Homo sapiens: one gene and its partners. The protein of the gene in region 1 purifies or fractionates together with the protein of each later gene. This does not show direct contact. Each region holds a gene or a part of one and is shown in the gene's direction. Other genes may lie near its edges.

Region 1 (7,112 bases):
ATTTTGTGGTGGATTTGCATCTGCACTTTATTCTGTTGTAGCAGCATATAATCATTAGGTCGATGGCGAGAGGTCAGGATGCAGTTTGTGCCATAAGTGGAACAAAGCAAAGAGAATAGTCCCTGTAATTAGTCCTGTGTTTGAACTTAACAGCACTACTAAGCAGAGAGCTTGGGTTCCATCTGAAAGCTAGACCTTTAGGGATTTTCCAATTTAGTGAAAAAAGATAAGATAGGCCAACCAATGTCTTAAAAACTAGAACTACTAGTCATTCTCCATTACAACAAATATCACAATACAACTACATCAAAAATCTCAAGATTGCTAAGTCAGTATTTGACCCATTATTTTAATTTATAGTTCATAGAACAAAATTCTGGTATAGCAGAATGGAACCATTCATCCTGGGAACGTATAATAGGATCTGATTAATAAATATTTTGGTTTTGCTGATCAACTCTTTATAACTTCTTAAAATTTGGAAAATATAGAACTAATTTAAAATTCCTGTTAGAATCCAGTTACCTTCTGGTATTCAATGGAATATAGTCATATATCATCTCATGGTCATACCCTCTGTGAAATCTATCATTAAACGATTCATCATTGTGTAAACATCGTAGAATGTACTTACATAAACCTAAATGGTTTAGCCTACTGCATACCTATTGCTCCCAGGCTACAAAACCTGTACAGTGTGTTACTGTACTGTACTGAATACTGTAGGCAGTTGTAACACAATGGTAAGTACATATGTATGTAAACATAGAAAAGGTACAGTAATCTTATGGAGCCACCTCTGACTATGTGGTTCGTTATTGACTGAAACATTCTGTGGCGCATGACTGTACTTGGGCAGCTTCTGCTTCTCTTTCGATTGCAAATACAAACCTGTTTTTGTTTTAATCTTTGACTAAATAAAAATCCCTCTGTAAGTCCATAGAGAGTAAGCACATCTTAAAACACAATAAGGAAGAGAGAGGAGAAAAAGACAGTCAAAACAAAAACTCTGGGGCTTCCCTTATCAATTACCTAAATAATCCTTGTTAAAACTAAGTGCAGGCTATGTTTCCATTTTCTACTTTTTTATGCTTCTTCTCTTCTGTTCCTTCAGTGGTGGTAGCGCGGATGTTCAAATTTTCAGTTCTCAGTAAAGATTGTATAGACAGTCCCACGGTCTTCAGGTTTTTACTCTGTGCTACCCAAACCTACAGTAAATACTATAAAAGAAAACTTATTCAAACGTAATCTTTATCTGCAAAAACTATTGAAAAACGTTACCATTTAACTATTGCTGTAATATAGGGGGTTCCTTGAAATATGATAACCTGCTTGTTATAGCTACTTCAGCAGATCTTATCCTGTTGCATAGGGTATCAGCATATGCTTAATCATTTAGGTATATTATTCTCCCTTTATTTCTTTCTATGTAAACATAGAAAAGGTATAGTAATCATACATAGAACTGACATGCTAGGTATTGGAATTTTTGCTTCAGCCCTGCAAACAATCTTTCAGGAGGGTATGGATGGGAAGTTAGGGTTAGGAACCTTGGAAGAGGAATTTAAAGGGCTAAAAGAAGATAGCCTTCATGGATAATATTTTAACTAACTTCTCCGTTCTGTTCATTTGAACTACCATGTACTTCAGTTATTTTGGTATATCCTTTTCCTGCTTCATGCTAGAAAGTCTTTGACTTGTTAAGAAAGCAGGGCAGTGCAGCCTGAGTAGATAGGATAATGGGACAAGCTGGACCTGGGATGGGAGTAACATCCCAGGGAGTAACAAGTAATGAGAGAAGAAATGAGAATGATGAGTTCCCACCAGCTCCTTGGCTGCTTTCTTACCCATATATTTCTCTGTCCCTAGTTTTTTGTTTAATTTTTTCTTCATTTGTATATTATTTGGAAGAGGAATTGTAGAGGAATGGGATGGGGTGTAATACAGAATCATTTGATGCATGCTAACTACTTTGGGAAAAGATTTGTGTAAGGCTGGGAGTTTGACTGTTGGCTAAAGTGAAAAGGGGGGATTAGTAGGGAATGAAAATTGTTCAGGCTCTTTGCTCATCATTGCAAAGAATTGGATGTGTTGTGGACCTAGGAAAACACTCAAATTCAGTCATCCCCGTTTGGGATAGGTTTGAGGAACTACTGGCCAACCTACTAAATGAACAACATCAGATAGCGAAGGAACTATTTGAACAGCTGAAGATGAAGAAACCTTCAGCCAAACAGCAGAAGGAGGTAGAGAAGGTTAAACCCCAGTGTAAGGAAGTTCATCAGACCCTGATTCTGGACCCAGCACAAAGGAAGAGACTCCAGCAGCAGATGCAGCAGGTAACACTTTCCTTGGTCATATTAATATTGAATTATACCAAGGCCTAACTCTGAGGCTTTGGTATAATCTAAAATTAGCAGCTTTGTAAATGTCAGAGATAGTTACCTTACTACGTATTAAAACCGTAGTATCTTCACATCAGTTAGGAGCTTGAGAAGTCATCATGTTCATGTCCTGTGGCTCAGGGAAGACAGCACATAAGGACCCTAATGGTATTCGGAATTACAGATTTCAAAGAGTCCTCAGTAATCTATTCTGAAATTTAACCTTCACTGTGACAAGTAGTTTTTTTTCCCTTTTCCCTTTTCTTTTTTCTTTTTTTTTTGAGACGTAGTCTCGCTCTGTCACCCAGGCTGGAGTGCAGTGGCTCAATCTCAGCTCACTGCAAGCTCTGCCTCCCGGGTTCACGCCATTCTCCTGCCTCAGCCTCCCGAGTAGCTGTGACTACAGGGACTCGCCACCACACCCAGCTAATTTTTTGTATTTTTAGTAGAGACAGGGTTCACTGTGTTAGCCAGGATGGTCTCGATCTCCTAACCTCGTGATCCACCCGCCTCGGCCTCCCAGAGTGCTGGGATTACACGCGTGAGTCACTGCGCCCGGCCTTTTCCTTTTCTAATCTCAGTTCCTCCTCTGTTTAGAGGTTAAACTTCCTCTGGTTCTGTCATTTTGTTCAAGGGAACATGTCTGAGAAATTTATGCCAAGATCCTACGTTGTTCTCACACTCTTTGCAGAAAGCAAAATTTGTGTCATAAAGTTGCAAACATCTTAGTTAATGACTCTCTGGTGGCTGGGTGCAGTGGCTCACACATGTAATCCCAGCACTTTGGGAGGCTGAGGTGGGAGGATTGCTTGAGCAGGGGAGTTCAAAAGCAGCCTGGACAACATAGTGAGACTCTGTCTCTACAAAAAATAAAAATAAGGCTGGGCACAGTGGCTCACACCTGTAATCCCAGCACTTTGGGAGGCCAAGGCGGGTGAATCATGAGGTCAGGAGTTTGAGGCAAGCCTGGCCAACATGGTGAAACCCCGTCTCTACGAAAACAAAAAATTAGCTGGGTGTGGCGGCGGGCACCTGTAATCCCAGCTACTCGGGAGGTTGAGGCAAGAGAATCACTTGAACCTGGGAGGCAGAGGTTACAGTGAGCCGAGATCACGCCATTGCACTCCAGCCCAAAAGTCAGTGCGAGACTCTGTCTAAAAATAATAATAATAATAATAATAAAATAAATTAGCCAGGCATTGTGGTCACAGCTACTTGGGAGGCTGAGGTGGGAAGATTGCTTGAGCACAGGTGGTTGAGAGGGCATTGAGTCATGGTTGCACCACTGCACTCCAAGCTGTGTGACAGAGCAAGACCCTGTCTCCAGGGGGAAAAAAAAATATCTCTGGGCTCCTGAAATGGCAGTGTCATAACATATCACTGCATTATTTTCTTTCTCTCCCCAGCATGTTCAGCTCTTGACACAAATCCACCTTCTTGCCACCTGCAACCCCAATCTCAATCCGGAGGCCAGTAGCACCAGGATATGTCTTGTAAGTTTCCAAATTGCCGTAATTCTATAGACTAGAATATAAAATTAGCTTGGCAGGTTATTTCTCACAGTTATTCTCTCAGGTATTTTTGATTGCTGTGGCTTCCTATGTTTGCTGAGTGAACATAAGCCACTGATTCACATGAAAGGACAAAGAGTGTATTCAATTTTTTCTTTTCTTTTTTGAGACAGGGTCTTGCTCTTTCACCCAGGATGGAGTGCGGTGGAACAATTTCAGTTCACTGCAACCCCTGCCTCCCGGGTTCAAGTGATTCTCCTGCCTCAGCCTCCCAAGTAGCTGGGACTACAGGCGGGCACCACCACGGGTAATTTTTTTTGTATTTTTAGTAGAGACAGGGTTTTGCCATGTTGGCCAGGCTGGTCTCGAATTCCTGACTTCAAGTGATCTGCCCACCTCTACCTCCCAAAGTACTGGGATTACAGCCATGAGCCACTGCGCCTGGCCTGTCCTTCTGATATTTTTATTGGGTCCTCCTCCTCATCTTTAGATTCACCCTGACTTCTTAGGTTTTTGGTACCGCTATTCATTTCATAGATGTTGAGGCTGGGCATAGTGGCTCACACCTGTAATTCCAGCACTTTGGGAGGCTGAGGTGATAGGATCACTTGAGCCCAGTGGTCAAGAACAGCCTGGGCAACATAGTAAGACCCGGTCTGTGTTTTTTTTGTTTTGTTTTGTTTTAATTTAAATAATGAAGTAAATATACATGTAGATGTTGAATTCATTATCCATTCATGAAGCTCAATATTAGTGTTTTATGTGTAGAGCTAGTTTTGCTCATGACGTTTTGAGGTATTTTGAGCTTTTTTTTTTTTTTTTTTTTTTTTTGAGACGGAGTCTCGCTCTGTCGCCCAGGCTGGAGTGCAGTGGCGGGATCTCGGCTCACTGCAAGCTCCGCCTCCCGGGTTCACGCCATTCTCTTGCCTCAGCCTCCCAAGTAGCTGGGACTACAGGCACCCGCCACTATGCCCGGCTAATTTTTTGTATTTTTAGTAGAGACGGGGTTTCACCGTTTTAGCCGGGATGGTCTCGATCTCCTGACCTCGTGATCCGCCCACCTCGGCCTCCCAAAGTGCTGGGATTACAGGCGTGAGCCACCGCGCCCGGCCTATTTTGAGATTTTAAATTTGAAATTTGGCCAGGTATGGTGGCTCATGCCTGTAGTCCCAGCACTTTGGTAGGTCAAGGTGGGAGGATTGCTTGAGCCCAGGAGTTTGAGACCAGCCTGGGCAACATAGTAAGACCCCATCCCTACCAAAAAAATAAAAAATAAAAAAATTAGCTGGGGATGGTGCCGAGTGCCTGTAGTCCCAGCAACTTGGGAGACTGAGGTAGGAGGATCACTTGAGCCTGGGACGTTGAGACTGTAGGGAGCCGTGCTTATATATCACTCCAGCCTGGGTGACAGAGTGAGAACCTGTCTCACAAAAACAAAACCATACTTTACCTCATAAAAATTGCCTCAAACTTTTGGACAGGTAATGATAATACTCTCAGCTTCTTCAGTAAGTCTTCTTTGGATTTTGAAGAGTACATTTGCTAGTATTCTAAAACTTCCTTGGTGATCAACAGGATGTCTTCATCTCTTACTGTATTCAGAGGAGGATGAGGAGTACTTGGTTGTAGGCATTATTCTGAGACCAAAAGACAAAACAATTTTAAAAGTAATGGTCCTGGTCGGGTGAGGTGACTCATCCCTGTAATCCCAGCACTATGAGAGGCCGAGGCAGGCGGATTGTGAGCCCAGGAGTTCGAGATCAGCCTGGCCAAGATGGGAAAACGCTGTCTCTGCAAAAAATACAAAAATCAGCTAGGTTTGGAGGTGTATGCCTATAGTCCCAGCTTCTCAGGAGGCAGTGGGAGGATGGCTTGAGCCTGGGAGGGGGAGTTTGCAGTGAGCTGAGATCATGCCACTGCAGTCCAGCCTGAGCGGCAGAGTGAGACCATGTCTCAAAATAAATTAATTAATTAAATTAAAGTAATAGTCCCCATTCTTGAGACTCTTAATTCTAGCTCGGGAGCTAGACCATGTATTCCTTAGTGAGAAACAGTTTAAAAATAAAACAAGAATATAATCCCTGAATATCTGAGAACTCAGGCATAATCTTAACAGTAGTTTATTGTGAAAGACTTTATGATTATTTTTACCTGTTTTTATCCTGTAGTAGGAAGGTCAGCTTCTCATTTAGATTCTGAAGGCTATTGGTATTAATTGTCTGGAATTGTCTTAGATCTTCCTTGTGTCGTGTTTTCCCAGAAAGAGCTGGGAACCTTTGCTCAAAGCTCCATCGCCCTTCACCATCAGTACAACCCCAAGTTTCAGACCCTGTTCCAACCCTGTAACTTGATGGGAGCTATGCAGCTGATTGAAGACTTCAGCACACATGTCAGCATTGACTGCAGCCCTCATAAAACTGTCAAGAAGACTGGTAGGAGACAGATGTGTCAGCTTTAAGTTTTTACTTGCGGTGAGAGGTGGTGGGAATCTTATCCCATAGATAACTTCCTAGGATACTTGCCTAGGAATGGAGGACACAGGACATTTGTAATTTCTTCCTTCTCTCTTTTATCCTCCCTTTGTACTCATTATCCAAGTTCTAGAATTACATGATAATCTCCGGGCCTGGGTAAGGCATGGAGGCAGTGGACAGTATAGGAATATGGGAGGTAGAGATCTGAGGCTCAGTGCTAAGAATTGGACTACAGCAATATGAGGGGTAAGTATTAGGAATCAGATCAAGATAAACTGGGGCCTGGTAAAGATGAAAGTCAGGTGGTAAAGTTCGGTCATGTTTAGCTTTTTATTCTCTTCATTAAGATCAACTAACTTTATTTACCATAATGATTGTAGCATAGGTGATATCTCCATTCTGAATGAAATGTTGACTTGCAAGTTAGGCGTAAATTAGAGATTGTACATTTGCCGTGTTCAGTATTTTAAAGAAATTTGCCGGTTTAGATTCTACCTTGCATTGGTTTAGTATTTTTTGAGAAAATATTTGCTATTTACTTAAGCCAAATATTTACTTCTGATTTGTTTGCTGACTTAGCAAATTAGTTGTGGTTTGTTCTGGATTTGGGTTTGTCTTTGGATTCTATTTTAAATCCCTAAGTCTTATCATTACATTGAATGTAGTTGAATTTAAGTGTACTATATCATAGACACAGATCCCAAACTACTTTAATAGCTATATTATATGAAATGGTAATGAAA
Region 2 (7,000 bases), about 120 Mb from region 1:
TTTTGGTCATTATTAGAAAGGCTTGTCTCTGCGACTCAAAAATAATTCTTCCATAGTTTCTTTAATATTACTAAAATAATTCTTCCGTAGTTTATTTAATATTACTGTTTTATTTCTTTATGCCTAAAACTTAGATACATCTGTAAAATTTTTTGATGTGAGTTAGGGATCTCATTTTTCCATATGACTACCCTTTTCTTCAAATACTATATCCTGAATTTAAATGTAATGATAAGGGGCTGGGTGCAGTGGCTCATGTCTGTAATCCCAGCAGTTTGGCAGGCTGAGGTGGGCGGATTGCTTGAGCTCAGGAGTTCAAGACCAAACTGGGTCTCTACAAAAAATACAAAGATTAGCCAGATGTGGCGGCATGCGCCTGTTATCTCAGCCACTTGAGAGGCTGAGGTAGGAGGATTGCTTGAGTCCTGGAGGCGGAGGTTGTAATAAGCTGAGATCATGCCACTGCACGCCAGCCTGGGTGACAGAGCCAGATCCTGTCTCAAAAAATGAACCAACTAACTAAATAAATAAGTAAATGTAGTGATATGGAAAGTTGCTTACAATATTACTTCTTAGTATTGACTTCTCATGCACTATAGAACTCATTGTTCTGACTACATAAAACACCTAATTTTTCATTTATGAAAAATTACAGAGCACATGCTATGTGGTCAGCTACTAATGATGAAACGTTGAGATGGCTCACCTGTAAGTTCTTCAGCATACATCTCCTAAGATTTTAGCATCTGTTTTACTATCTGTTGTCTCAATTGATTATTTTAGAAAGTATAGACAATTTTTCCAATTATATTATTGCCTCTACGTTTATTAGCAAACGTTCTTATGATAGAAACAAGCTTTTATCTCCTTCCCTTTGACATTATGGACTCAAATCATTATTTACCCTCATACTGTTTCTAATTTTCTGTTTATTTTTTCTAGCTCTGTGAGGAGGAAGAGTCATAGCTATCTCTTTCATCATTTTATCCCTAGAACCTAGTGCAATACCTACCACAGAGTGGTTTCCTAATAAATATGTACTGAATGAATGAATACTTCAAGCAGTGGGGAGCTATTGAAGAATCTCAAGGGAGGATGTAATGTGAAATGATTTATATTTTGGAAAGGTAATTCTGATGTCATTATGGAAGAGAGCAACTTGAGCAAAGCTCAGAAAAAAAAAAGAAAGAAACAGGGGGTTGCCCTGTCACATCACCCAGGCTGGAGTGCAGTGGCACAATTATAGCTTGCTGCAGCCTCAAACTCTTGGGTTCAAGTGATCCTCCTTCCTCAGCCTCCTGAGTAGCTAGGACTGCATGTGTGTACCACTACACCTGGCTGATTAAAACAAAATTTTTTTTTGTAGAGATGGGCTTTTGCTATGTTGCCCAGGCTGGTCTTGAACTCCTGGCCTCAAACAATCCTCTGGCCTCAGCCTCCCAAAGTGCTAAGATTATAGGTGTGAGCCACTGTGCCTGGTCCAGGAAAGCTTTCCTTTGGGTTCTGTATCAGTTGGGACCTGATTACAGATAATCCAACTCAAATCAACTTAACAAAAGGAATTTATTGGATTCCATAATCCAGAGAAGGGTTGAAGAACCAGCCACATGAAGGATGTAACTGGGCTTCAGGAACAAATAAGAGCAAGGATGCCAGTGCCACTAATATTTTTAGTCTTCGCCTCACTCTATTTTTATCAGTTCCAGTTTGTTTGCTGATGTATCAATTAAATGTGGTTTAGGCATAGAGTTTATAAGGGTATGGTTGCTTCCTGAGTATCCATGTGGACTGAATTAGTATACCTTTGAAGGTATTGTAGAATCCAGGAGGAGACGTGGAGTATTAGAACTAGGTGCTAAGTGGAAAAGATGGATTTGAGAGAGATAAGTAATAAAGTTGACAGAATTTGTCCAGGGGGAAATCTTGAGCAACTGCTGGTTTGGTGAATCTGTTAACCATCTGAGGGAAATATAAGAAGCATATGCTTGGAATGGGAGGGAACATGATGAGTTTTGATTTTAGAGATGCTAAGTTGGAGAACGTGTAGGAGCTAGTTGAATATAGACATCCGAAATCTTATAAGAAAGGTCTAAGCTTAAGTGCTTAGGAAGTCAGTAGCAAAGGTAAGTGTTATGGAGGTGAACAAAATAGCTCAGTCTGAGTGTAAAAGTAAAGAGAACAGGAATCTTGCAGAAAAGCTAACATTGAAGCCATGTGAACAGAAGAAGAGTATAAAATAAATTATAAGGCAATTAAGGAAAGTAAGAAATAAGAGTACCAAAGAATCCAAAGGAATTTTATCCATGAGGGATATGCCATTTAGGAATTGAAAAAAGTCAATTTGCTTTGACCATTAGGAGATCATTGATGATGTTAATGAGAAAAGTTCCAGTGGAAAGTTGGGAGCTGATTGTATTAAGCTCAAAGGGTTAATGATAGAGATGAAGTAGAAGCAAACTAGGTAGAATTTTTTTCCTACAAGTTTGTGAAGGGAAGATGAATGAGGGCATTGTAGGGTTAGGGCATGAATGAGGGCATTGCTTTGTTTTGTTTTGGAATGGGAGAGATTAGTATATATTAGTAGTTTTAAACAGTAAATAGTCTTTTATTCTAGGTTGGATAAAATTTATTTTTATGTGTAAGTATTAACTGCCGTCAGTGTTTATTAGTGTTAGTGCAGAGAAAATGGGACTCAGACCAAAGACCTGAGTGCTAATCTCAGTTTTCCCTGAATAATCGCCATAATAATTATAATTACCATTTTATATTCCCTTCTATTTGTCAGTCATTGTGTTAGTAGGTCTTTTGTACATACTATCACTAATCCTCACCACAAATTTATCTCCAAGGTGAGTATTATGCTGTTGTATAGATAGACTCTGAGAGTTTACTTTTTAGGATTACATAGATTTTCAGGATCATGCTTTGATTTCAACACAGATATGTCTGATTCTGAAGTTGGTGCTCTTTTCTCTATATCACGTAGCTTTCTTTTCTAACCTAAAGTAGTTTCTCAAGTTTTGGCTCCTTGTTTCCTTAACTGTCAGATAGGAATAGTTATATCTGTCACACCTATATCAAAGTGTTAAATGAATACTATGGTAATATCTGTATTTTGTTTGAAAAAATATTTATTTGGTTAAATACCAGACTGACCTTATCATTGTGGTCATCTTTAGCACTATCATTTGTCTAAACAGTATTTTACTTTTTAAGGTGGTGGTATCATGGATACAGAAATGTCTGAAGATATAGACCACAACTTAACTCCTACCCTTGACAGCATGTCTTATGGAATGCCGAATCAAACAGGATCTGAAAATTCATTGCTGGATGAAGATGATTATTTTTTGAACTCTGGGGATCTTGCAGGAATTCCAGTCGTTGGTAGTGACAATGAGGATGAACAGGATTTTAGTTCAAAGGACAATCTTGTTTCTTCAATTCATACTGATGATAGCTTGGAAGTAGAGAGAAGAGTCACACAGCATGAATCAGACAATGAAAATGAAATACAAATTCAAAATAAGTTAAAAAAAGACTTTCCTAAACAATTTGATCAGGTTTCTGTCTTTAAATCAATACGGAAAGATTTTAGTCTAGTAAGAGAAAACAGCAAAGAGACATTTTCTGGAAAGGAGAAAAATAGAGACCTAACTTATGAACGTGAAAAACGGTTGGATAAACCCCATAAAGATTTGGATTCAAGGTTGAAAAGCAGTTTTTTTGATAAAGCAGGTAATAATTGTTGGACTTAGAACCATAAAACACAATTAAAAATTACCGATCATAATATATAGCTTTTATTACTTTTGATGTTAAGTGAAGTATGAACGGTTAAATTCATTGTAAGCTTGTCATTTTTCTTTTGTCCTTGTTCTTTGCAGAGTGACTGAATTTCTCCCAGTAACTTTTGGTAATGGTATAAATGGTTGAAAATAGCTCTAAACCTCATTTCTCCCTCCCCTGGTTGCAATGTTTTGATGAGAAAGGCAAGATACTTGAATCACCTGTTCATTTTCTTTGGTTGAACATTGGAACCTGAAGTTGGATTTAACTTCTTTGTGCTGTAAGCACTAATTCAAACTGCTGTCTCACCACTTAGTCCAAATTAGGGAGTTATTTTATTTTTTTAATTTTAATTTAATTTTTTGTTTATTAACTCTCACCTCTATCTGAAAGGGAGTTTTTTTTTAATAAAAAAAACCCAAACATTTCTAATTTATGTTTTAGAAGTTTCTTGAGGTTCCTCCTGAGCCTCTTTGCCCAGTGTACCCTATACTTTAGCTTTAGTTAACATTCTTGAATATATCACATATTTCCTTCTATGCCTTCCTTTCCTCCTGCTATTCCATTTGCCTGCATGTCATTTTCTCTCTGTATATTTGCTTGTGAAAGTACTTCTTATCCAACAATGCCTAACTCATAAACCTCTTCTACTCTGTCATCATTCTAACTGCTCTACATCAAGAATGGTTTCCTTATCTATATTTCCACAGCATTTTCATGCCTCATTATTTATAGTACTTATCACACAGTATTATAGTTCTATATTTGTTTTACCTTACCTACTAGTGTAGGAGTTGAGGGCCAGATTGTATCTTACTCATCTTTGTATTCTTGGGGCCTAACCTGGTGTAGTAAAATAGTAATTCTTCAATAAATGTTCAATAGCTGTGAAGGAAAGCAAGTATTCTATACCAGTCCTTGTATTTCTTCTAACAATGCTAGGAAATGTATGGTAGAAAGAACAAACCAGTATTGTTAAAAAGACAGCTTTTGAGTATGTACAAGTCTGTGCAAGGATATACTATATTTTTCTCTATAATTCAGTATATATTTCCAATATCCCTTCTTGGGGTATGAGAGTCATGTTTCTCAAGGAACATAATGTCTAGTAGTAGAATGGACAAGACAAGTCAGGCCGTAGAAGTGCCAATGTCCAGCTGAATAGCGTAAGATTTAATTTACAGTTAAAGACAGTGGTAGAAGAGTTTGTCATAAGGCAGTTCAAAAAGATGTCTTTCAAATAACTGAAACTGTGTTTTAGGGATTCTTAGAAGAGAGATGATTTTTAACTTAGTGAACAGGGAAGGTTTTATAGAGGAGAGGTGAATTTTTAACTGAGCTGAGTCTGGAAAACTGTATAAAGATTAGGATAGACAGAGGGGACTTGGAATAGAATAAGTAGAAATGGGGGAGAACAAATGCAAGCAATTTTCAGAGCAAAAATAATTTTTTTTTTTTTTTTTTTAGGTTTGAGCAAGGAAAAAATGTAGGGTAAGGCTAAAAGCTAGGTGGGGCCAGATTGTGCAGAACTTTGAGTGAAAATACCTTTTGGGTGTTTTTGGGACCCAGTTCACTCTAACGAGCATCTTTGTTGGAAAAGAGAGGTGATTATCAAATGATAGCTTTTTAGGTCACTCTTTGTAAGATTTGTTATTCATATACATGTGTTTGTTTGTTTTTTTTTTCCTTTCAATAGCTAATCAAGTTGAAGAAACATTACATACCCATTTACCACAAACCCCAGAAACAAACTTTAGGGTAAGTTTTCAGTGTGTATGTAGATTGCTGTAACTGTGACAAGTGTCAAAGTTTTCTTTATGTCAGTTTCTAAATTCTAACAATGTATTAGGTAGAGCACTGATTTTTTTTTTTTAATTTGCTTAATATTTGTTTAAGGTCATCATCGGAGACATTCTAAAAAGCCTCAAATCTTAGGGTCTTTATTTGTATTTGGTATTTGGACATATAACACAATTACTTTTAGGCGTAGGCATAAGATCCAAAAGCTAATGAATGTCCATAGAGTTCTTCATTTCCAATGAGCTTTTCTTTGGGTGTTAAACCTGAAGAGGAATCATTTTAAAATCTGAATATTTATTAATCCTTTATATTGTGTTTTAGGATTCCAGCTACCCATTTGCCAATAAAGAATCCATTGGTTCGGAACTGGGGAATTCCTTTGCATCAAATATTAGAATTAAAGAAGAACCTTTGGATGATGAGTATGACAAAGCAATGGCACCACAGCAGGGACTACTAGACAAAATAAAAGATGAACCTGACAATGCTCAAGTAAACATTTCACCTTTTTTCCCCCCTTCTTTTTGTTCCACACATTGAATTATTCATTTGAGAGAGGAAGTGCTTAAGAAGTGAAATAGTTTGTTGACAGGGTGAAAGGAAACTCTTAAAGAAGGTTGAGGCGATTTGAATTACCATATAAGGCATTAACGAGCTATATGAAACTTTTCCTGAGTAGTAATTAAGGCTTTTAATCATCTTTGTTTCTTAATACCACTGTGATTTTTGCAATGCATTTTAGCGCAAGGCTTTGAGAACTATACAGCAGATATGGTTGAAGATTTATGGTAGTTTATAAGTTTGTGGTGCAATCAAGTTTATGTAGGATAGTAAGCCTTTTGCAGTTAATGCTAATGAAGTACAGGCTATATATGGATTTAAATATTTTTCAGGAGGGGTTAATGGACAGATCATCTTTGGAAGGGTTAATTGATTGAAGAACCAGTTCATTGGATTAGTGGATAGAAGGTAAAGGAGGCTTTGATGAATGATACATGATTCCAAGTTTGAGATCTGTGAGTAATAAGAGTGAAGGTAGAGCTCTGCTATTTCAAGGTTGCTCTGGAGATAAAATCATAGAGATCTTAAAACTGTGAGGTCCTGAAGTCAGCTAAGCTATCCATGCAGTTAATGATGTTGCTGTTGTTGGAATAGAAGAAAAAAGTTATATCAGATGCTGCAATCATTTTGAAGTGCAAGAAGGGGTCCAAGGGACGAATATGCAATAGCAGCAATTATTTGAGGGTATCTGTGTTTTGTAAAGATGGTATGAATTGGCTCTTTTTCTGAAATGACATTTAATCTGGGGGAAGCTTATATTTTCCTATCTTTCTGTTTATATTAGAAGGTTTGAGACTGTCAGACTTCTGTGGAAGTGCTTTCTTTTTCTTTTCTTTCTTTTTGTTTTTTC
Region 3 (7,000 bases), on another chromosome or scaffold:
TGTTCTGAAAAATCTTTGTTTTAAATTTTTTTAATCCTGAGTTTCTAAAAACATGAAGATAATGTCAGACCTGTTCCAAGTGAGAATTATTTCTGGGCATACTTTCATGACAAATATTTGAAGCACTCTAAAGCTCCAAAAGACTTTAGACCTAGTTCATCTTCAGATTATTTCCATCTTAACGTTTCCACCTCTTTGGCCCCAAAATGGGCACCTTTTGTTGCCATTTAGGAAAGGGAGAAGTTTGGGGTTTTTTGGTTTGGTTTTTGTTTTTTTTGAGACAGGGTCTCACTATGTCACCCAGGCCAGGCTGGAGTACAGTGGGCCATTATGGCTCACTGCAGCCTCAAACTCCTGAACTCAAGCGATCCTCCCACCTCAGCCTCCCAGGTAGCCGGGACTACAGGCTCGTGCCACCAGGTATGGCTAGTTGTGTTTTTTGTAGAGACGAAATCCCACTCTGTGCACCGGCTGGTCTCGAGCTCTTGGTCTCAAGCAGCCTTTCCACCTTGGCCTCCCAAAGTGCTGGGATTATAGGCATGAGCCATTGTGCCCAGCCAAAGGAGAAGTTTTGAAGGGAGCTTTTACTTACTTATTTTTGAGTCAGGGTCTTGCTCTGTCAGGAAGGCTGGATCACAATGGCACGATCTTGGTTCACTGCAACTCCCATCTCCTGGGCTCAAGTGATCCTCCCACCTCAGTCTCCCGAATAGCTGGGACTACAGGCACACACCACCACACCTGGCTAGTTTTTTTGTTGTATTTTTTGTAAGAGATGGGGTTTCACCATTTTGCCCAGGCTGGTCTCGAACTCCTGAACTCAAATGATCCACTCGCCTCAGCCTCCCTAAGTGCTGTGATTACAGGTGTGAGCCACTGCACCTGGCCTTGAAGAAAGCTTTTGGTGTTTGGGATAAACATGTTCTCTGCTTTATTCAAGAGCAGATGCTAGCTTAAGTACCAAGACAAATTCTTGAGGGAGCTCAGAGTTTTTAATCTAGGTTGCTTGGCTAAGTAAGAATGTTGGAGATATCTGTTGAGAATATTAATGGTGGTGCTTTTAATGACCTCTTGGGCTAGGAAGAAAGCATTTGAGAAATCGTATTTTTTTTGTTATTCCTAGGTGGGAAACAGTTAAATAAATACGATCCATTCAGTAGAAACCCTCTGTTCTGTGGAGCTGAAAATACAAGTCTTTGGGAACTCAAAAAGGTAAAATAATTTCAAATTGTCTTTTATTCATTTATGCTATATATATATATATATATTTTTTTTTTTTTTGAGACAGAGTCTTCCTCTGTCACCAGGCTGGAGTGCAGTGGCATGATTGTGGCTCACTGTAACGTCCGCCTTCCGGGTTCAAGCCATTCTCCTGGCTCAGCCTCCCAAGTAGCTGGGATTACAGGCGCCCACCACCACGCCCAGCTAATTTTTGTATTTTTAGTAGAGACGGGGTTTCACCATGTTGGCCAGGATGGTCTTGATCTCCTGACCTTGTGATCCGCCTGCCTCAGCCTCCCAAAGTGCTGGGATTACAGGCATGAGCCACTGCGCCCGGCCTATGCTGTATATTTTTGCCCTTGAGGATGTAATGCCTTGAAGTTTTTGTTTTTTTATGATAATTATAAGCATTAATAAACATTAAAAGTCCACATTTGGGGGAAGATACTATGTGAAGTGTTCATTTTGTAGAAAATCTTAAGTGTGCACGTAAAATAAGGATGTCATGCATGGGTTATGACTGTTGCTTTTTGTAGGTAGATTATTGCATATAGAGTTGAGAAAATGGATAAATTTTGCTTTATTTATTAGATACCTCTGAAAAGTTTTATGATAAAATTTTTTGCAAGTAAAGTTACTTTTCTGAATTTGTAAGAGGAATTCATATTTTTAATAACCTTTCTGTGACTTTTTGTGTAAAGCCAGTAAGTATCTTATGCAGCTATTCTCAAAGTGCGGCCAGACCACTAAGAGTTCCTGATACCTTTTTAGTGAGTCGGCCAGGTCACAGCTCTTTCCATAGTAATACCAGTACATTATTTGTTTTCATCACTGTGTTGACGGTGGCACTGATACTATAAAAGAAATGATAGGTAAAACTGCTGCAGCTTATCCTGAATAAAGACAGCACCAAGCTGCATCAGAAGCCATTATATTCATCACTGCCACATATGTGCAGTTAAAAAAAAAAAAGCCAGTATGACTTAAGAATGATGACACAGGGAGAATTACTGATTTTAGTGTCTTGACCTTAAAGTAACATGTCTTTTTAGTATTTCGTGTGCATACATAGCAAGTATGCGTAACATACCTGTGCTGCCTACCTAAAGCATGAAGGTTGTCACGTGTCTCAAGGACAAGTGCTTACCAGTTGTTGCAAGCTCATCTAGCTGCTCTTTCATGAAAGACTGACAAACTGGTTATTCAGGCTTAGGTATTTGGGAGATATTTTCTTGAAAATGAATGAAACAAAAAAGCTGGCAGTATTTGTTGTCAGCAATAAAATTCAAAAATAAAGCTTTCGAGCAAAGATTAAAGTTTTAAAAATCTTGTAACCACCACCTTGAGCTTGACAGTTTCTCAATTTGTAAAACTTTTCTGATGAAATCAGTGGTTCTAACAATGTGATTGTTGTGGTAAAGTATAACGAAATGTGCCAGTGTTTGGAAGGACTGCATATGGTATTTTTCCAATGACCAATGCACAATGTTACAAATTCTTTTTTTTGAAACGAGAAGGTTCTGTCACCCATACTGGAATGCAGTGGCGCGATCTCGGCTCACTGCAACCTCTACCTCCTGAGTAGCTGGGATTACAGGAGCATGCCACCATGCCCAGCTAATTTTTTTATTTTTAGCACAGACAGTGTTTTGCCATGTTGTCCAGGCTGGTCTCGAACTCCTGACTTCAGGTGATCCACCTACCTCAGCCTCCCAAAGTGCTGGGATTACAGGCATGAGCCACTGTGCCACCTGAATGTTACAAATTCTTGAGTGAATAAATGATTGATTCAAAGTAGACCAAATAATTTTAAGTAGCAAGTACCAAAAGCCAATTGAATATGGGTTTCAGATTCCATATTACAACTAATCTTTGGTTTTGGTATAGTACTAAAGAAGAAAATTCACAGCTATGTGAAAGACTATTTTCTACACATGAGGCCAGATTGTATGTTTCAACGTGGAATACAGAAGCAGATGAAATAATCCACTCTCTTCTGTTAAGCCAGACATTAAAGAGATTTGCAAAACTGTAAAGTAATACTACTCGCTATATATTTCGTCCTGAAGCATAATTATTTTTCTTTTTTTCTTTTTTCTTTTTTTTTTTGAGGCAGAGTCTTGCTCTGTCGCCCAGGCTGGAGTGCGGTGGTGCGATCTCAGCTCACTGCAAGCTCCGCCTCCCGGGTTCACACCATCCTCCTGCCTCAGCCTCCCGAGTAGCTGAGACTACAGGCGCACACCGCCACGCCTGGCTAATTTTTTGTATTTTTAGTAGAGACGGGGTTTCACCGTGTTAGCCAGGATGGTCTCGATCTCCTGACCTCGTGATCCGCCCGCCTCGGCCTCCCAAAATGCTGGGATTACAGGCATGAGCCACCTCGCCTGGCTGCATAATTATTTTTCATAAATATGCTACTTACTAGTATGTAGTAGCTTTATGGTTTTTGTTTTTGTTTTTTGTTTTTTTTTTTTGAGACAGAGTCTTGCTCTGTTGCCTAGGCCAGAGTGCAGTGGCGCGATCTCGGCTCACTCCAAGTTCCGCCTCCCAGGTTCACACCATTCTCCTGCCTCAGCCTCCCGAGTAGCTGGGACTACAGGCACCCGCCACCACGCCCGGCTAATTTTTTGTATTTTTAGTAGAGATGGGGTTTCACCATGTTAGCCAGGATGGTCTCGATCTCCTGACCTCGTGATCCGCCCACCTCAGCCTCCCAAGGTGCTGGGATTACAGGCATGAGCCACCGCGCCTGGCCGCTTTATTGTTATTTTTAATGGACCTATAAGTATTTACAATTTTTCTGTTTATTTTTATAACATAGGTGTCTGTAGATATAAACCTGTTGAATAGAAACTGATGGAATTTTTGGTTTTTAAGTGTAGGAAATGGTCCTGAGACCAATATGTTTTGAGAATCACTTTTTTAATGTATTGGCTTAAATTTCAAATTTTTGCATTTTCATTTTTGTTGTTGTTGAAATAGGGTCTCACTCTGTCACCCAGGCTGGAGTGCAGTGGTGCCATGTCAGCTCACTGCAGCCTCGACCTCCTGGGCCCAGGCAGTCCTCCCACTTTAGCCTCCTGAGTAGCTGGGAGTACAGGCACGCGCGCACCATCACACCCTGACTATTTTTGTACTTTTTGTAGACATGGGGTTTCGCCATATTGCCCAGGCCAGTCTCAACTTCTGGGCTCAAGCAATCTGCCTGCCTGAGCCTCCCAAAGTGCTGGAATTACAGGTGTGAGCCACCACACCCAGCCCGATTTTCTTAAATAAGCTATAAATGTACTAAGAGTCGACCTTAGAAATATTGATATTATTCACATTTTTCTTTTTAGTTATCTGTGCATTTTCATCCCTCCGTGGCCCTTTTTGCAAAGACCATCCTTCAGGTGAGTCTAAAATAAATCCAAAGATGAGAAATAAGAAAAAAAGTATCATTTTAGATAATCAATAATTGGTCATACAGTGTTTTCTCTAACAGAGAGAATCTTGTACATTTTACTGCTCGTATAAAGAAGCAGTGACTTGTTTCATACAGAGTAGCAGATAACTTTTCCCACTCTGAGATGAGTGGAAGCAATAAGACATTGAAAGCCACGCAGTTATTTATTTATTACCTTCTAGCTCCTCTCCTGGAGAAATACTGCCTCACTTTCCCATTTGCTGTGTTTGCCACTTCAGGGTTTGGTTCCTGATTAATGGTTAGATGGCCTGCATTATTAATATTAGTCTATCCATCAAATCAACATTACATCCTAGAATATGTATGTATATGTATCTGTGTGTTTAATTTTTTAAGTATAATGTGCATGAGAGAGATATTTGAAGAGTCATTTATTGCATATTTGTATCTTCAATACAGTGTAATAGAAATTATCTTTTTCTTCCTTTTTCTTACTTGGATTCATAGACATAATTTGAATTAAGTTTTTAAATCCCCGCTCCACTTTTCAGGGAAACTATATTCAGTATTCAGGGGACCCACTGCAGGATTTCACTCTAATGAGATTTTTGGATCGATTTGTATACCGAAATCCAAAGCCCCATAAAGGCAAAGGTATGCTTCTATTTAGTGAATTATTTGGCTTTCATTTTTAATACATAATAAACAATATGAGCTTATAACTAGGTTTTGCATTATACTGTCATAATTTTACATTTCAGAAAACACAGATAGTGTTGTGATGCAGCCGAAAAGAAAACATTTTATTAAGGATATTCGTCATCTTCCTGGTAAGTATAAACCTTAGACAGTTGAAACTGAAAAGACAATATAAGACAAAGATGCATAAATTGTATTATTCTTTGTTCTAATTTATCAGAATAAAACCTGAGCATCAAAGACATTATCCATCTTTTTTCCCAAGAATAGGTATTCTTAAATCTACTGTATCTGACTGGGCCTTTTTTTTTTTTTTTTTAACTTTATTACAGCAAATTTGAAACATATCCAAAATAAACAAAATAGTATGATGAACCCCCTCCCCATTACCATCACCCAGCTTTGACAGTTGTCACCATTTTATCATCCGTAGCTTCATCCACAACCCCTATGTATATAATTATTATTGCTTACAATTCAGACCATCTTAAAGCTCTCTAATATCAGCTTAGCAGCACAAAAACCCACAGCTGGTTTTGTCACAGAGCATCATTTTAAACTTAATAACCTACTTCTATATTTGCTAGCCATCTTCTGGATCTGAGTCTGTTGTTGTATTCAAAGCAGACATTTCTTTGCATACCAGATCTCATCTCCCTTTTGTTCAGAGACCAGGATTAAATTAGACCTTATAGATCATTTAATTTCCAGTGACTTACTTCACAGAGGTCCAGAGATGTAAAAGGACTTACCCACAGTTAGTAAGTTAGAATTAAAAGCCAAATCTCCTTTTACTCAGGATGAGTCAGCAATTTTTATTCTGAAGAGGTAAAACTGATTTCTTGTAGTTCCTTATTTCTTAGTTTTCCTCAGTATAAAGGAAAACTCTGTTAACTTCCTGTTTATTCCCAGAATGGCACGCATTAATGGCAAGCTTGTCATTTTTTGAGCTGAAAATGACAAGTTTAAAGTGATTATTTATTAAAATAACTCTTTGAATTTTTTATTTCTCTTGAAAGTTGGGTCCTGGATGCAAATGAAGAACAGTAAGAGAACCCTGTTGTTTCACTGTAACGGCACTGACAGCTATGTACTGCCTACTTTATGCTGTAGCCAGTGAAGTTTCAAATGTTGGGGGGGTCTTCACACAGACTTTTTCAGAGATTGTCCCTTGCACTCCAGAGTCCCTTCTGTCTACCTTCCCACACAATTCTGAGATTTTTAGAATTACAGATTATGCTGTATTTTGTCTTAAGAGCTTGAGTAACATAAAGGGGATTGCTATATGAAGTTAAAATGTTTAAATTTATTTTTGTAGTGAACAGTAAGGAGTTCCTTGCAAAAGAAGAAAGCCAAATACCAGTGGATGAAGTGTTTTTCCACAGGTACTATACATAATATAGTTTCATTTGGGGAAACTGCTAAAATTTAAATTTTTAGATTTCATAAAATGCTTCATTTTATGAAATAATCTACTTCAATAATCTACTACTGTGTGTAAATAGACCATGGAACATTAGTGGGAGAAGTGGCCTTAGTTTTAAATGCTTCATTTTATGAAATCTAATCAGCATATTTTGAAAAGATCAAAGGATATGTCTGTGTTTGTTAAGAAAATTTACAAATCCGTCATTTTGCTAATCTTAATATATCTTAGTAAAACTAAAGTAAATT

What was found. Proteins that work in one complex are often made in the same cells at the same time.
Region 2: the proteins of YY1AP1 (region 1) and ZMYM4 purify together in Homo sapiens (affinity purification with mass spectrometry; 2 studies listed by BioGRID and IntAct, with this or other methods). This does not show direct contact.
Region 3: the proteins of YY1AP1 (region 1) and CEBPZ purify together in Homo sapiens (affinity purification with mass spectrometry; 2 studies listed by BioGRID and IntAct, with this or other methods). This does not show direct contact.

The regions. Positions count from the first base shown.
Region 1 is NC_000001.11:155,671,775-155,678,886, reverse strand, and holds part of YY1AP1 (YY1-associated protein 1), read left to right. Parts: intron 1-2,140; coding exon 2,141-2,339; intron 2,340-3,790; coding exon 3,791-3,877; intron 3,878-6,155; coding exon 6,156-6,327; intron 6,328-7,112. UniProt on the Homo sapiens protein: Associates with the INO80 chromatin remodeling complex, which is responsible for transcriptional regulation, DNA repair, and replication. Enhances transcription activation by YY1. Plays a role in cell cycle regulation.
Region 2 is NC_000001.11:35,355,709-35,362,708, forward strand, and holds part of ZMYM4 (zinc finger MYM-type protein 4), read left to right. Parts: intron 1-3,113; exon of another isoform or gene 3,114-3,216; coding exon 3,217-3,738; intron 3,739-3,893; exon of another isoform or gene 3,894-4,069; intron 4,070-5,485; coding exon 5,486-5,547; intron 5,548-5,910; coding exon 5,911-6,081; intron 6,082-6,482; exon of another isoform or gene 6,483-6,558; intron 6,559-7,000. UniProt on the Homo sapiens protein: Plays a role in the regulation of cell morphology and cytoskeletal organization.
Region 3 is NC_000002.12:37,214,597-37,221,596, reverse strand, and holds part of CEBPZ (CCAAT/enhancer-binding protein zeta), read left to right. Parts: intron 1-1,123; coding exon 1,124-1,212; intron 1,213-4,559; coding exon 4,560-4,613; intron 4,614-5,178; coding exon 5,179-5,281; intron 5,282-5,388; coding exon 5,389-5,457; exon of another isoform or gene 5,458-6,276; intron 6,277-6,644; coding exon 6,645-6,711; intron 6,712-7,000. UniProt on the Homo sapiens protein: Stimulates transcription from the HSP70 promoter.